Regions from separate parts of the Homo sapiens genome. Here region 1 is linked to region 2. The links come from fine-mapping of genetic effects on gene expression. Tissue or cell type: whole blood. Region 2 holds a variant in brackets; the other region holds the start of a gene. All regions are shown on one strand. Distances are between the middles of the regions.

What was found. PIP is the estimated chance that this variant, and not a neighbour inherited with it, causes the effect.
Region 1: it holds the start of NEURL1, and the variant in region 2 is fine-mapped to the expression of NEURL1 in whole blood (TOPMed, PIP above 0.99). The same link has a PIP of 0.9 or more in monocytes.

What each region holds. Positions count from the first base shown.
Region 1 is chr10:103,488,885-103,496,984 of GRCh38, reverse strand. It overlaps NEURL1 (neuralized E3 ubiquitin protein ligase 1), which reads right to left and starts at 3,280. Exons shown (of 6, transcript NM_004210.5): 1 at 2,513-3,280. The coding sequence starts at 2,597. NEURL1-AS1 (NEURL1 antisense RNA 1) reads left to right here. Exons shown (of 4, transcript NR_120675.1): 3 at 2,250-2,424. RefSeq lists silencers at 2,602-2,701, 2,782-2,911, 2,922-3,071, 6,301-6,370 and an enhancer at 2,386-2,935.
Region 2 is chr10:103,547,045-103,555,144 of GRCh38, reverse strand. The region is part of intron 1 of NEURL1 (neuralized E3 ubiquitin protein ligase 1); the gene reads right to left. Among named protein-coding and RNA genes, the nearest start is that of NEURL1-AS1, 34 kb to the right of the region's middle. The variant T/C (reference allele first, on the strand shown) is at 3,309.

The DNA.
Region 1 (8,100 bases), 58 kb after region 2:
TGGTGTGTGGATGGGGCCCCCACTCCTGCCTTCTGCCAAAGACCCTAGCCACAGAGACCTCAGATCCCCACAATTCCAAATTTTAGATTAAAAAGATGCAATTAGTTGGGAGCTCTCTGGGTTTCCACAGAGTCAAGGATGGAGCAAGACCTTCTCAGGAAGATAGTCTGTGAATATTAAGGGCCAACTAACCCCTGCCCCCAGCTAACCCTTGCCCCCTGAAGGACAGGGCCAAGTTTTGCCACTTTAATTTGGGCAAATAATTATTCTTTTCCCTCATTATTCTCACTTGCAGAGAAGGTTGAGCTGAACGATATTCATAGGTTCATTAGGAATCTGTTTCCAATGCTCAGAAACAGTCTTCATACTTGCTAACACTGATAGCTTATTTCTGATTACAAAAATAATACTTCCTTATTATAGAAATTTTAGAAAAGAGCAAAATATAAAAAAGAAAAAATGCAATCCCATATGATCCTATACCCAGAGGAAATAATTGTTAACCCTTTGGAAACTTTACAAGCATTTTTGCTTGTTTTGTTTTTGTTGGGGTTTTTTGCATTCACACCACTTTTTAAACAAAATTGGGATCATACAGTCTTCACAACTTTGTATTCTGTCGTTATACTGTGAGCATTTTCCACAGTCATCAACTATTCTTCACAAATATAATTGTAATCACTGCATAGTACTCTACCAAGAATATATACCATGATTACTGAGCATTTAGGTTATCCACCTAGTATAAATAACACTGCCATGAACATCCTAGCCTAGTGCCATAAGTATATATTCCTGCATCTCCACTTCCTTAGTATCAATTCCTCAAGGTAGAATTACAAGGTCAACAAACTGATTTTTTTTTTTTTTTTAGCAAGACAGAGTCTCGCTCTGTCGCTCAGGCTGGAGTGCAGTGGAACGATCTCAGCTCACTGCAACTTCCATCTGCCAGATTCAAGGGATTCTCCTGCCTATCTGCCTCCCAAGTAGCTGGGATCATAGGCACGCACCACTATGCCCGGCTAATTTTTGTATTTTTAGTAGAGACAGTGTTTCGCCATGTTGGCCAGGCTGGTCTGGAACTCCTGACCTCAAGTGATCCACCTGCCTCAGCCTCCCAAAGTGCTCGGATTACAGGCGTGAGCCACCGCACCCTGCCAACAAATTGATATTTTTAAAGTATCTTGACATGTATTGCCATATTAATTTCCAGAAAGACACAACAAATCCACTGATTTTCCTGAGCCAAGTGAAAGCTGAAGTTCTGAAAGAGCTGGAGTATTAGAATGCAGGACAGTGGTCCTATCTCTCCTCCTCTTCCCTGGTCTTAAAAGTTAACTGTTCAGCAAAAGAAGGGACAGAATTCCAAGTCAAAAGATAGGGGTCTACAGCCTAGCACCTAGCGCCGAGGTCTGGCTGGCTTTGGGAACCTGAAGCAAGCCTTGGTTCTCCTCATCTGTAAAATGGGTATAGTGTGATTAGCTCTGCTCTGCTGACTACCCCAAGCAGTGTCCATGCTCACTGAAAATGTGTTTGAGAAAGTTCGATGCCTTGTGTTAAAGGGCACTATTGTTATCCTTCTCATAACCTGAGGAGCTTAGGAAGTGGGGTATTCTTTCTGAAAGCCCAAGGGCTTCCCTTCCTGGCTTTTAGCCATCATGCCCAGGACAAGTGCCACTGGTTCTGAGGTGACAGAAAAGCACCTTCCGGAAGGAATTTAGTAGGGTCTGAGGGCCCGGGAGGACCCAGCAGTGTCTTCCAAAGGTCAGAGACAGCATTGGAAGATCCAAGACAGGAATGGCAGGCTCCGAATGGGGAGACTGGGCCTAGGGCCACCCTGAGGGTGCTGAGTGGATCTGGGGAGGTGAAGAGCAAAGACATTCCTAGTAAATGTCCCTCTGTTTCAAGGCTCCCAGACCCTCTTTTCTAGGGCTCTGACTGGATATCTGGTCTTTGGGAAAACCAGAAATCAAACTAATTCAATGGATGCAAAAACCCAACGGCTGCAAAGGACCCCAGGAACCAGCAGCTCTGACCCTTTCTTCCAGGCTGCTGTAATCCTGTCCTGAATTTTTAAAACCCTCCCATTGGAAATGCAACTAGTGCTCCCAGCCTGGTCTCTCCAGCCCTAGGGCCGATGGAAAGGAGACCCATCGAGGTGCCTCCCTGGAGACACGGACGACCCAAGCTTCCCTCCTCACTCCCCACTCCCCTATCGACCTGGCAAACATCCTTTCCCATCTCTTCAGGCTCGCCTAAGACCATGGCCTGAGGGGACTCCAGTGACGTTCCCAGTGCCAGCAGACAGAACTGCGCAGACCCCGCGGGACGCCATCCTCCATCACCATCATCGCCGGCTGCCCTCCACCCCCAGCCCACTCCACGGCCAGAGGTGCATCTCCGGCCTCCAGACACGCACAACAGGTGGCGTCTGCCCGCCCTCCCCAACCACACCTCCCTGGCCCTCCACCTGCGCCCCAGTCCTCCAGCAGCGCTCGGCCGGGGAGCCTACCTTTGAGGTTCTGGGGGTGGCCCCGCGGCGCGCGGCTCGGGTTTCCTCGGGGCAGCGAGGGGATACTGGAGAAGTTGTTACCCATGGCATCCGGCCCCAGGAGGTTCGGCGCTCGCGGGTGGGGGCGAGGCCGGGCAGGCGCTGAGGTGCGGTGTGCGAGTGTGCGCGCGCGGGTGCGCGCCACCGGGGGAGGGCCCTGCTGGGGCTGCAGCCGGGGGCGGGCGGGCAGCTCCTCAGCTTCCTTTCTCTGGACTTCGCGGTCCTTGGCGGGTTCCGCCCGCCACGGGTGTCCTGGCGCAGGCTGGGCTACCTGCCTCCCATGCCCCGTGGCGGGAGCGGGGGCCACAAGCAGGGCCCTGGGCCGGGGCCGGGGACGCCCGGGGCTCCCCGCTTGCTCCCCGGGACGCTAGGGTTCCGGCTGGGGGTGGGCGGCGCGGCGGCTCCGGCGCGCTCCCCCGGGGCCATAGAGTCAGGGTCGCTGGCGTGGGCGTTCGGCGGCTCCGAGGCAGGCTCGGTTACCGCCCCGCGGAGACGGCCGCGGCGGCGATGTGCGTGGCTCCCTCCCGCCCGCGGGTCTGCGTGGAGCGGGGCTCGGCGGAGCGCGGGGCGTTCTGGGCGCTCCGACGCAGCTGGTGTCCCCCGACCGCCGCGGTCCCGCCCGCGCCGGGTCCCTCCTGCGACCGCCGCCCCCGCCCCCCGCCCCGGCAGTCTCCAGGATTCCCTCGCTCCGGTTGTTATGGTGACAGCTGCGCCGGTGAATGAGCGTCTTAGTGACACGCGCGCGCCCGCTAGGCCAGATGTGGCCCCGGGGCGCGCCGCGTTCCCGTAGCCGCAAGCTCTCGGCGGCGCGGGTCGGGGTAAGACATCAGGCGAGTATGGTGGCACCCGGGGCTGGCCTTATTCCCAGCACGGAAACATGGAACTTGCACTTGAAAACAAGGGGAGCAGGGCCGCGAGAACGCCGAGCTCCCCGGATGCGGGGGCGGGCGAGCCAGCACTAATGTTCGGTTTCCCTAGCTCCAGGTACCGGGCCTGGCGCAGAGTGGAGAGCCCAGGGAAACATGTAAATGAGCGAGCGGATGCTTGGATAAAGTAATTGAGATTAGAACCCCGGCACTTGACCCTCCGTTCTCAGCCAGGCTAGGGGCACTAGGGCAAGGGTTCAGAGCAGGAACCCCGGGCAGTCTCACTGATGCACAGATGCCACTGAGGGCCTTTGAATGCCCGCGGACCAGACTCACAAGCCTGGAGCTCTGGCCAAGCTGAGGGAACAGATCTCCGGGACAGATCATCAGAAGACCACCAGCTCTGAACTGAGTGGTTCTGTTAGCTATAACAAGGTGGGGGAGAGGAGCCTCTGCAGCCTATGGCAGTCAAAGAAGGCTTCCTGGAGGAAGGGGGTTTCAGCAAGGGCCCTGCTCATGTGGCTAGTGCCTTCCTGTAGCTCAACACTGCACCAAGAAGCCTTCAGGAAGGGAAACAGAAGTCATTCTTCTCCTTCCTGGACCCGGGGCATCTCTCCTGGTCTATCAGGGATGGAAGATGTTCCAAGGTTCCCCCCAGGGAATCAGACTTCCTGCTCCTCTAAGTCATCTCTAGCTCCCTGCTCTGGCTTCAGCAACTCAGATCCAGAGTCCAGTGAAGACATGGGTGGGCAGGGGGACATCTCATGTATCCTTTTCTGTAATAAAGGTTCTTCCCCCAAGTCTCCATTTGGCAGCTCCTCATTATCTAGGCACAATTCGTGTCCTGACATTCCCTGACTGCCCCAACTAAAGGACCCCCTCCACTGTCAGTCACTTTCCACAATATTCCATTTTATTTTCATCATAGCTTTTATATGGAACTTGTTTACAAGTAGCCTTTCCTCGTTTATCTTCTGCCTCCCTGCTAGAACATAAGCTCTGTGAGGGGAGAGCACAGGTCAGTCGTGTTCACCAGGGTGTCCTTACCCACTGGGGGAATGCCTGGCATGTGACAGATTCTCAGAAAATAATTGTGGAATGCATGCTTCCCACTGTGGGCCAGGAGGCTCCACTGAGATCCCTGGGGGCAGAGCCTCCTGAACCACCCTTTATTTTCCTCTCCTACTCTCCTCTCTCCATCCCCATTCCAGGCATTCTACCCTTAAATGTCTGGGACTCCAGGCAAGCTAGAAATATCTGTGACAGCCACTGTCTCTCTGGAATCTGGAGGGAAAGGCAGCCCCGAACCCGGCCTCCAGCCTCCCAGATGCCCAGGATCACGTGTGCAGGCAGCTGCAGATGGCCACAGCAGGTCAGGGATGGCTGTCTTATTTATGGGCAGTATCTTCCCAAGGCTCACTCCCAGCTAATGACTCATGCATCAGAAATCCACAGGCTCTTAATGGCAACACACTCACACATGTGCTAACACACCGCTACACTATCTCACACACTCACACCTATACAAGCACACACACTTATATTCCCCCTGAAATCTGCCGGAATGAAGTCACTGTGAGTGGCCACTAGAATCAGGCCTTTCACAAGTTAGAACAAATATGAGGACTCTGCATAGTTGAGACTCATCCTGCTAGAGTGTGTTTGAAGTACAAGGGCCTAGCTAGGATTTACAGACGGTGGCTCCAGGGAAGCCTGGTGTGGGCAGGGGAATGGGGGAGGGGATGAGGCCCCAAAGGTAGAGCACAGCAGGGATGTCTTGAACTGCTGACCTCAGGTGATCCACCTGCCTCGGACTCCCAAAGTACTGGGATTACAGGCATGAGCCACCGCGCCTGACAAAGGGATGTCACAGGCCCCACATGGCCTAGACCTGGGGCTATGGGCAAAGCAGGGGAGAGAGGAAGACGTCAAAGGGAAGGAGGGAAGTGAAGGCCAGAGGCGGATGCTCACCTGAGTCCAGAGGCAGCCCAGGTTCTGCAGTTCAGGGCAGCGTGATCCCAGGGAGTCCCAAAGGAAGGTGAGAGGCGTCAGGGACAAAGGCAGGGAACTGAGGGTTGAGGAGCTGATGGGAGTATCAATAGGGCTGGGATAGGATGAGGTAGCCAAGGCATCCCTGGCGCAAAATTGAAGAAGGCGCCAACTCTCAAGTTCATGCAGATACCAAGCTTGCACTTGCGCGAGCCTGGGAATTAGGTCCTCTTATATTTCACGCCCTAGGCCCCTCTCTACCTTCACCCTAGTACTTCAGGGAGCTCTGTACTGGAAGAGGGGACACCACTGTTAGAGTCAACTAGGTCTCTGGCCAGGAAGGGACCTAGAGGAGGTTGGTGTGGCTGCATAGGACTCAGAGAAGTTGAGCGTGGCCCTTCTGAGGAGTCCTGTGCCCCAGCAACTCCTCCCTGGCAGGGACTTAGGGTAGACCCAGCTCAGAGGGTTAAAGAAGGCCAGCAGTCTCCTTACCCCCAGACCTTGGGCAGAACTCAGAGGCCTTCCTGCCATCCTTCCCCAAGGCAGCTCATAGGGGTGGGGTGCCTGGGTGGTGGCTCTGATCCAGAAGACCCTTCCCAGACCCATCCTGGAAGGGAAGAGGAAGAAGGAAACTGCCAGGGAGACTGGGGCTGATGAAGTCACTGTTTTGATGGCTTCAGGGGAAGCTATTAATACCCACAAGGTGATGCTCCAGCACCAGTCACCGTGGCAACACCCACACACCCAGCAGTGCAGATTCTGCGGGCAGTGCCTGAGGGGGTGGGTGTCAGTGCACACGTGTGCACTTTCGCGAACACCTGTGTCCTTGTATGTGCATGCGTAGGTGTTGTGAGTGCACACACAGGCATGCAGGAGAGGGAGGCCCCAGGCAGGGACCTGAGGAAGCTTCCTTCAACAGCAGCTCCACTCCCACCTTCCCTTCCTTCCCTGTTGCTCTCTTCTTGCTGATTTCTCTTTTTTTTTTTTTTATACAGAGTCTTGCCCAGTGGGAGCACAGTGGCACGATCTCAGCTCACTGCAATCTTGCAACCTCCACCTTCCAGGTTCAAGCAATTCTCCAACCTCAGCTTCCCGAGTAGCTGGGACTACAGGCACACACCATCATGTCCAGCTAATTTTTTTTCCTTCTTTTTTTTTTTTTTTTTTTGAGACGGAGTCTCGCTGTGTCACCCAGGCTGGAGTGCAGTGGCGCGATCTCAGCTCACTGCAAACTCCGCCCCCTGGGTTCACGCCATTCTCCTGCCTCAGCCTCCTGAGTAGCTGGGAATACAGGTGCCTGCCACTACGCCCGGCTAATTTTTTGCATATTTGGTGGAGATGGGGTTTCACCGTGTTAGCCAGGATGGTCTCAATCTCCTTACCTCGTGATCCACCCGCCTCGGCCTCCCAAAGTGCTGGGATTACAGGCATGAGCCACCGTGCCCAGCCAATTTTTGTATTTTTAATTGAGATGGGGTTTCACCGTGTTGGCCAGGTTGGTCCCTAACTCCTGACCTCAAGTGATCCGCCCGCCTCAGCCTCCCAAAGTGCTGGGATTACAGGAGTGAGCCACCGCACCTGGCCCTTGCTGGTTTCTTTCACTCTCTACCCCCTTCCCACCCCCTCTCGTCTTTCCCCCTGCCCTTCCTTCTCTGCTTCTTCCCACCCTGGTCACTTTCTCTCCTTGCAACCTCTGTTCTTCCCACCCTGGCTGTCCGCTCCTGCCTGGTTCGCCTCTCTCTACCTCCCTTCCTCTTTCTCTCTCTCCATAGCTTCCAGATCCATTCAAGTCTTGAAGAGTTACCGCGTTGATAAAATAATAGCATATTTAACTGAGAGTCTACTCCCTTCCCTGAGCCTCTGGATACTGAGTTCAGAACCAACCAGAGTGATGACCTTTCCTCAGGCAGACAAAAGTGGGGCGCCTCTAGGCCAAGCTGGACTCCCCTGAATTGAGACCACCCTAGTCAATGGCATGACACCTCCCTCCAGGCAGAGAAATTAACCTTAAAATGGGAAACAGCCACAACTATCCCTGGCTACCACAGGTAGCACCCTCCCATTCCCCAAGTCCCAGCCCATTGTTTCATTTTGTTTGGGTTTTGTTTATTTGTTTGTTTGTTTGAGACAGAGTCTAACTCTATCACCCAGGCTGGAGTGCAGTGGCATGATCTCAGCTCACTGCAACCTCTCCTCCTGGGTTCAAGCAATTCTCGTGCCTCAGCCTCCTGAGTAGCTGGGATTGCAGGTGCGTGCCATCACGGTCAGCTAATTTTTGTATTTTTAGAAGAGACAGGATTTTGCCATGTTGGCCAGGCTGGTCTTGAACTCCTGACCTCAATTGATCTGCCCACCTTGGCCTCCCAAAGTGCTGGGATTACAGGCGTGAGCCACTGCACTCCGCCTGGTTTTGGTATTTAGAGCTGAGGGTCTCACTCTGTCACCAGGCTGGAATGCAGAGGCGTGATCATAGCTCACTGCAACCTCGACCTCCTGGGCTCAAACGATGCTCCCACCTCAATCTCGAGTAGCTGGGACTACAGGCATGCGCCACCACACCTGACTAATTTTTTATTTATTTGTGTTTTGTAAGAGATGAGAGCTCAGTTTGTTGCTCAGGCTGGTCTTGAACTCCTGGCTTCAGGTCCCGACTAGGCCACCCAAAGCTCTGGGATTATAGGCATGTGCCACCAT
Region 2 (8,100 bases):
TCCGGCCGCCGCCTCCCCGCTCCCACCCACTCCAGCCTCCCCACCTCCCGCGCTGGTACAGCCGATGGGATCTGTCATGTTTATTTACATAAGGAGGAGGAGACTGGAGGCTTCCTGAAATAGCAGCGAGCTCCAGAAAGCGAGCAGAGGCGCGCACACGCACACACATCCCCATCACACACAGCCCCATCTCAGGGATGTAGTGACACACACAGCCCTCCCTGAACGCCCAGGCCGACAGCCATTCATTCACTAGCCTCATGCACCTACTACATGCAGAGGTCCTGCTAGGTGAGAGGGGACCCCCTGGGAAGCAAAACAGACATCGTCCCTGCCCTCAAGAGGTTCACAATCAAGCTGATGGAGCTGTTAACCAAGTGCTAACACCGTTTCTGTCTTCTTCCAGGCTCTGTTCCAAGGGCTTTGCAAGTATTAACTCCTTTGGTCCTCACAGGCTGAATGATGAGGTCAGTATTACAGTCATTATCAACAGATCAACAGGTACCATCTCTAAGATGATGATGATGGTCTTACAGATGAGAAAACTGAGACAAAGAGAGGCTGCTCACCTAAAAGGTGGCAAGGCTGGAATGCAAACCCAGGCAGTGCAGCACCAGAATCCAGGCTTTTCCCCCCCACACCAACCTATCCCTTTAACCATGCACATACACACACACCACACACCCCAACACAGACCTGCACTATTCTTCTGCATCATGTCACACAAATGTGCATATACATGGGCTCATAAGCACTTGGGAGCATTCACCACTGAGCGCACTCAGCCATCTACTGACCACCAGACATGTACTCACATGGTTACATGCACACCTCTCAATGTCCACAGTCAACATACGCCTGCTTCCACAGACTCGCAAAGTTTCTAGAGAAATCTTAAGGTGGACACTGGCACCCCACACTCAGGGAAGAGGGAAAGGTGGGAACAGAGGGGGAAGAGGGAGGCTGGGATGGCAGGCCCCTCCAGCCCTGGGCAGGCATGCCGGGAGCCCAGATCATCATCAAGAGAGCAGCTGCCATGCAATGAGCATGCACCGTGCACCAGGAACTGTGTGGGTGGCAGTGGCTATGATGATATCTGTTTTACAGAGAAGAAAGTGGAGGTTCTGAGAGGCTAAGGAGCTTGCGTGAGGTTACCCAGCAGGTCACAGGCAGGACCAGGACTCAGGCCATGTCTGAGGGACAATGTCACCATCCAACACAAGCTCAGGGGCCTCTACCAGGACAACAGGACAGCACCATCCTCCCTGGCCCTGGCCTGGACACCAGCCCCTGTCCTCAAGGTCTGGGATCTTGGACCCCAGGGAAAGGGCTGGGTGGGAAGAGAAAGCCAGCGGGCAGGTGGGAGGACAGAGGGGTAGGGGCTGAGGAAGGGGCCACGGGAAAGGTGGAGGCTGTCCCACAGCAGATGGAACTCAGAGGCCTGGGCCCTGTAAGGGACTGGACTGGGTCCTGAGCCCGCAGCTCAAGACCCTGCTGCTCCCACTTCTGAGTGGGTCTGGGGAAGCGGTTAGGAGGGACATTCAGGCCTGACCTAGAGTCATCAGCAGAGGGCTGGGCGGGATCTGGGGGAGAGCAAGCCCAGTCGGCCGATGCTCCCCTGAGCCAGAGGCATGCCCACGACTTCCGGGAGAAGCCACGACACCCGAGTCCGCACAAGGCAGCCCACTTTCCACAGGCACATACCGGCTCATAGCTGTGCAGTCACACGTACACACACGCACACACTTCCTGGCACACATACCCAGTTCCCATGGGGGCGGGAAGCTAAGTCAGTCTGACAAGGAGAAAGTAAGCCAAACTCCTTTTGTCGGATAATGATCATAATAACAGCAAACACGAGGTCTTACTGCATGATCCACACTGCCCTGAGCGTGTGACGCATTTAACTTGCTCAATCCTCACGACAACCCTAAGAGATCAGTGTATGTGTATGCCCATTTTACAGATGAGGAAATTGAGGCCAAAAGAAGATGCTTTGGAGGCTGTTCCTGTAGCAGCAGAGTCACCCTCCACACCCTGCCTGCCTTTTAACACACTCAGCTGGCCCCTTGCCCACCAATCCCTCGCACATGCCAGCCTGGCCTTCCTATGGCCCCACACCCAGACATCAGCCTCCCTCTCACCTTGGTTCCTGCCTTCTCCTCACTTGGAATGCCCCCTTCCCATCACCCAGCACTGGGAACACTTCTTCTGGGAAGCCTCCCTAGGGCCCTAGGTAAGAGTAAGTCCCTGTTCTTGGCACTTATATTTCCTCTGAGCTCCTGAGCTGGGCATCTCCTAACACTTACCCTACTCGGTCCTATACAGAGAGAGCCATGGCCTGGCTGGGGCCCTATCTGCTTGCCCCAGCTTCTCCTGGGTGCACCTCAACCATTTAATTCAACTCTACCCACATTTATTGATCCCCTACTATGTGTCAGACACTAAGGATGCAAGGGTGGCCCTCAGTGGCAGGTCCTAGCTCTCGCGGACTTCCAGTCCAGAAGGAAACAGACATTTATCCAGTAGTCTCACTAAGGAGTATATCATCACAACCTGAGAAAAAGGGTCTGAAAGAAAGGAGCAAGGTTCTGGGAGGCTCAGGACAGGCTTTCCTGAAAAGCAACAGTGAAGGCAAGATCTGAAGGCTAATGGCCCTGTGCTGTGGAGGTGGCTTAGGGGAGAGAGTGAGTACAACATAGGCAAAGGCCCTGTGGCTGGAGAGAGCTGGTGTGTTCCAGAAGCAAGGTTGGTATGGAGCAGGGTGAGCAGGAGGAGCCTCAGGAAACGCTCCATTGCCGAGCCAGGATGGGTCAGGGATACACCAGGAGGGTCTTGAGGAGAAGGGCGAAGACTCTGGCCTTCTTCCTGAGAGCAATAGGGAAGTCCTGCAGCAGGGAGGCAACAGACCAGACCCACATTTCAGAAAGTCACTGTCCTATCTGGTTGTGAAGGGTGAGGGAGGAGGCAGGAGGCTCAAGGGGAGGGAGCAGCAGCAGCAACATCCCGCATCCTGCACCCCACAGGGTGAGCCTTGCCTGACTTAGCCTCACTCCCCTCGGGCTTCACATCACTCCTGCCCCTGCCCGGAGCAGGCACTCAGAAAACATCTCACAAACAGACCTGAAATCATGTAATTTTCAGACACAGGACTGTGGGAAAGCAGCCAAGTGGTAAGCAAGCAGGGATGGGGCAGGTTTGGGGCTCCACGAGCTGGAAGTCCTTCAGATGAGCAGCAGCCCCAACTCTGGCCACTTGAGTGAAACAGAACAGAGAACTGGGAGGTGGCCCGAGTGGCCCCCAGGCCT[T/C]TGACACTGCAGTCTAAAAGGGTTTTCCCACAGACGTATGAGCCTGTTTCCCACAATCACTTCCCCAAATAGGATGTGGCAATCAATGTCCTGTGTCTGAGGCTTCCCTCTCCTGTCACTTCCTCAGGCAGTGTCCAGGACCTCTAGAGGGAGAGGCAGCCCCGGGATATGGCAGAAGAGCTGCACCCCTTCTCTGTTTTATTCACTGGGGCATCCCATAAAATTTCATTTGGGGCCGGGCACAGTGGCTTACACCTGTAATCCCAGCACTTTGGGAGGCTGAGACGGGTGGATCACTTGAGGTCAGGAGTTCAAGACCAGCCTTGCCAACATGGTGAAACCCCATCTCTACCAAAAATATAAAAAGTTAGCCAGGCGTGGTGGCACACGCCTGTAATCCCAGCTACTGGGGAGGCTGAGGCAGGAGAATCGTGTGAACCCAGGAGGTGGAGGTTGCAGTGAGCCAAGATTGTGCCACTGCAGTCCAGCCTGGGCGACAGAGCGAGACTCCATCTCAAAAAAAAAAAAAAAAAAAAAAATTCATTTGACCAAAGGATTCTGTTACTAAAAGGGTGAGAAAATCACTAACATACATCATTCATTCACTTATTCATTCATCAACCATTCACTGAGTGCCCACTATACACCAACTGGTGAGCAGGACCCAATGCCCACCCTGCAGAAGCCAGGGGTGTAAAACGGGCATGGACGGGGTAACAGGCAGTTCCAGATCCCAGCAGAAGCCAGGCAGGGATTGAGGAATCAGGTTCTTTCAGCTCTGGCTAAATGATCTGTGTTCCATTCTATAGCCGCACTTTGGAAACGATGTGAAAGGGGAATGGAGAGGCTATAAGTAAATATATAGCAGAAGCTATAAATGCTACCATTTATTGATCGCTTACTGTGTGCCAGGCACTGTGCTAAGTATCTTATGTATCAGCCAATCCCAAAACTTCCCTTCAGGAGTTATAATCACCCCCATTTTCGGGCTATAAAACTGAGGCTTAGAGAGGTTATTCTGAAGGCAAGACAAACGAGGCTTCAAACCCAGACCTGCCTGACATCAAAACTCATGCTCCATCCAGGAAAGGGCAACGGGCAGGGGCCCCTCTTGCTTAGAGGAGAGAAGACAAGGGGACAGTGGACCGTCTCCTTAAGGAAGCAGAAGGGTTCTGTATGGCAGCAGAGCCTAGACGTTTTCCAGAAGACAGAAGGTGACATTCCAGGGATGAAGCCTAAATGCAGGTGGAGAACAGGCAGTAAGGCTGGACTTCTCATCCGCTAACAGGTGACCCAGACAGACACTGGAGATGTCATCCTGGAAATTGTGAAGAACACAGACCCATATATGACCTGGGTGGGGACTTAATACCTCAAAGCCTGCAGGCAGGAAGCAGGGCTGGCAGTGCCCCTGGGGGCCTGGTCTGACAGAATCCCCAGCTGCATCTGTCCTCTCATGCCATCTAGGGAACCTTAGGCCCCTTGGCTCTCTGAACCCATTCAGCTCCCAAGGCCCTCCCCACTACTATAGCTGTCCCTCTTTTCCCTGCCATCTCCTGTCCCCTGACCCCTTTCAGACAGCTCCTCTTCCCTTGGGTGCCATCTTGGTTTCCATGATGGTCTACCTAGCTCAAGGCTTTCCTCACCAAGTCCTCTCTCATCCAGGTTCCCCAAGGCCTAGCACCTCATTCCCAGCCTAAACCTGCCCTCTCAGAACTCAAAGTCTAAGGCAGAGCCAGCAACTCCAGAATAAAACATGGAACAAATTCACTGGGGAATAGAAACCATCACAGTCACAGTCACCAAGCTCTCTAATGGGGAAGAGCCTCCAGAGAGCACTGGGGCCAGCCCCTACCTTCAAGCAGGCAAAGAAGTTCTGGGCCCATTTTACAGGTGTAGCAAAGAAGGCCCAATAAATGATAGAGACTTTGCCAAGGCCACACAGTGGGTGGAAGGCAAGGAGGACTGGGACCCAGGAGTAATGTCTTCTGCTGCTATGCCTAATATGACATATAAATCCAGGCATCAGGAGGTATAGAAGACAACACTGGACAAGGGAGGGGGTAACTTCTTTTTATGAAGTAGGGGGAAGTGACTAGGGTCTGGGGAGGCCAGGAAGAGGAGGTGACCCTGCTGTGGAGGAGCTGGGAGGCAGCCCCTTGCTGCTATAGTGTTTCCTTCATCAAGAACAAGGGATAATTTGATTGAGTTGATGAGCCGCCTCATCAGCATTTGAGGCTTATGGCCATCCTGCCAGGGCCCCATCCTCTCTACTCATTAGGCTGGGCCTGGCAGTAGAGAATAGGAAGCAGGGAACCCCAGCTGAAAGCTTCCTTCTATGCCCAGAGCCAGGACAAGAGTGGAGGCTGCTGCCTCGAGTCTGGAAGAGTGAGAGATGAGGAGGGAGAGGAGAGCAAAAGTACTCAGAGATGGAGAGTGCAAGCCAAGTGCTGCAGAGAAACTGGAGCCAGGGAGCCCAGAGGGCGTCCTCGGGGGTTGGGACAGGTGCCCCAGCCGTGACAGCTGCCAGCCGCCCAGGAGGATGGGAACACAACAGGTGCAGAGGAGGGGTGGAGACTGAAAGGGAATCTGAGCAAACAGAACCTGGATGGAGTTGAGGTCCCTCCCTGCCAAGGCCCACTGCCAAGCAGCCCTTTCTCGGCCTCTCCAAGACACAAACACACCTGCTCGTGCTCCCCAGTTCCAGGCCTCAGGGCCAGCATGGCCAGCGTAGACTGGACAGAAGGATCACCATCCATGCCAGGCAGAAAGGATGGAACAAGGAAGAAACCAGGTTTCTATTCCCAGGACAGAGTGTGCCAGACAAAGCCCACACCCACTGAGTCCCTAGCTGGAGGCAAACATTTGCCTATGATAAGATCTGTGTCACAGGTCAGGAAGGGTGGATGGATGTGCCCACCCCACCCACATGGAGGGTGGGAGCTCTGGTCTTCAGGTTGGACAGGCAAGCTACTGAGCTTCTCTGAGGCTCCACCATCTCTTCTCCATGGTGGAGATCACATGGCCCAGAAACTTGTGAGAACTGAATAACATAACACCTGTGACGGCCGCTGCCTGGCTCCATCCATAACAGCAACGCTTGAGAGTCAGAGAACTCGGGAATCCACGTAGAACTGGAAGGACTAAAGTCTCTGTCCCAGCCTTGGAGAAGAGTGACTTGGGATGCAGGATATGCATATAGCACTAAGAATACAGCCAGGCGTGGTGGCTCACACCTGTAATCCCAGCACTTTGGGAGGCCGAGGCGGGCAGATCACCTGAGGTCAGGAGTTCGAGACCATCCTGGCCAACATGATGAAACCCTGTCTCTACTAAAAATACAAAAATTAGCCAGGCGTGGTGGCACACCCCTGTAATCCCAGCTGCTCGGGAGGCCGAGGCAGGAGAATCAATTGAACCCGGGAGGTGGAGGTTGCAGTGAGCCGAGATTGTGCCATTGCACTCCAGCCTGGGTGACAAGAGTGAAAACTATCTCAAAAAAAAAGAAAAATACATATTACCCCAAGGAGGAGAAATAGAAGACCTGCTTTAATAAGAAACATTTACTCGGTACCCGCTTACTCTGCATCAGGCACATTCTAAGCTTTGCATGTATGATTGCATGGGTGCCTCACATGCAAATGCCATTTCAGAGCACTGGGTAGCAGTCAGTTCTTCTAAGGAAGTAGATTAAACAGTCCCTTATCACCTGGTTAGTGCTGCATTTTTGTTCAGGAATAGAATGAATTTTAAACTGGAAGCTAGCCTTTGTCCCAGCAATCACAAGTGATAAATTAGCAGGGTCTGAATACATAAGATTTGCTCCCTACACCAGAACCTGGATGGGGAGGGTGAGGAAGGGCAGGCAACGAGACTTTATGGGGAGAAGAGACGCAGAGAAATGAGGAGACCCAGGGTGTCGCAGGAGACAGGATGAGCGCGGGATGTGCTGGAACAAGACATGGGCCTCGTCCATCCGAGATGCGGAAACACACTCTGCTGATCCCTGATGGGCCTGCCTGGATTATGAGAAAAGCTGGCAGCTGATAACAGGAGGTTAAATCCCTCCTCCACAGGCAGAGATCCTCCTCAATCCATCCCTCCCTTCACCTCCACCCCACGCACACACTCACACTCACATTCACATATACAACTTTAGCCCCACGGCTCAGCCTACGCTCCTGGTGCCCACTCCTTCTTGTGTCAGGCCCCCAGCTAGCTGAAGCCACCCCAAAGCTGGGAGGCCCCCCTCCTTCCTCTGGGGATTCTGCTTCCTCTGGCTCTTGCCTGCTTCCTGCCTCTCCCAGGTCCAGCTTACAGAGGGATGGCCAAGCCCAGGACCAGCTGACTTGGCCTCCACTTCTGCTCCCATGCCCTGGCCCTGCCCCTGCCTGCTACCCCTCCTGGGGCCTCTGACTCCAACCTTTGGGCTCAGATACTGGGTGTCAGTAGCTACAACAAAGTGACAGTACAGGACCCCACAGGGGCTCAGGCCCTTGGCTGGGGTACTCCCAGTATGGCCACTGGCAGCTGGATCCCAGTGCTGTGACACAGCAAATACTACTCAGTGCCACCAGTGTTGTCTACACTAGGGGCTTCACAGTAGAGGTGGCAATTAAGAGTAGGCTCCAGAGTCAAACTTCCCGGGTTCAAACCTTGGTTCTAACATCTACTAAGTGTCCATTTCCTCTTCTGAAAAATTGGGTTGATAGTAATAGTGCCTAGCTCCTACGGCTACTGGGTAGATGAAATGAGCTCATGCATGTCGTGTGCTCAGAACAATGTGGGGTGC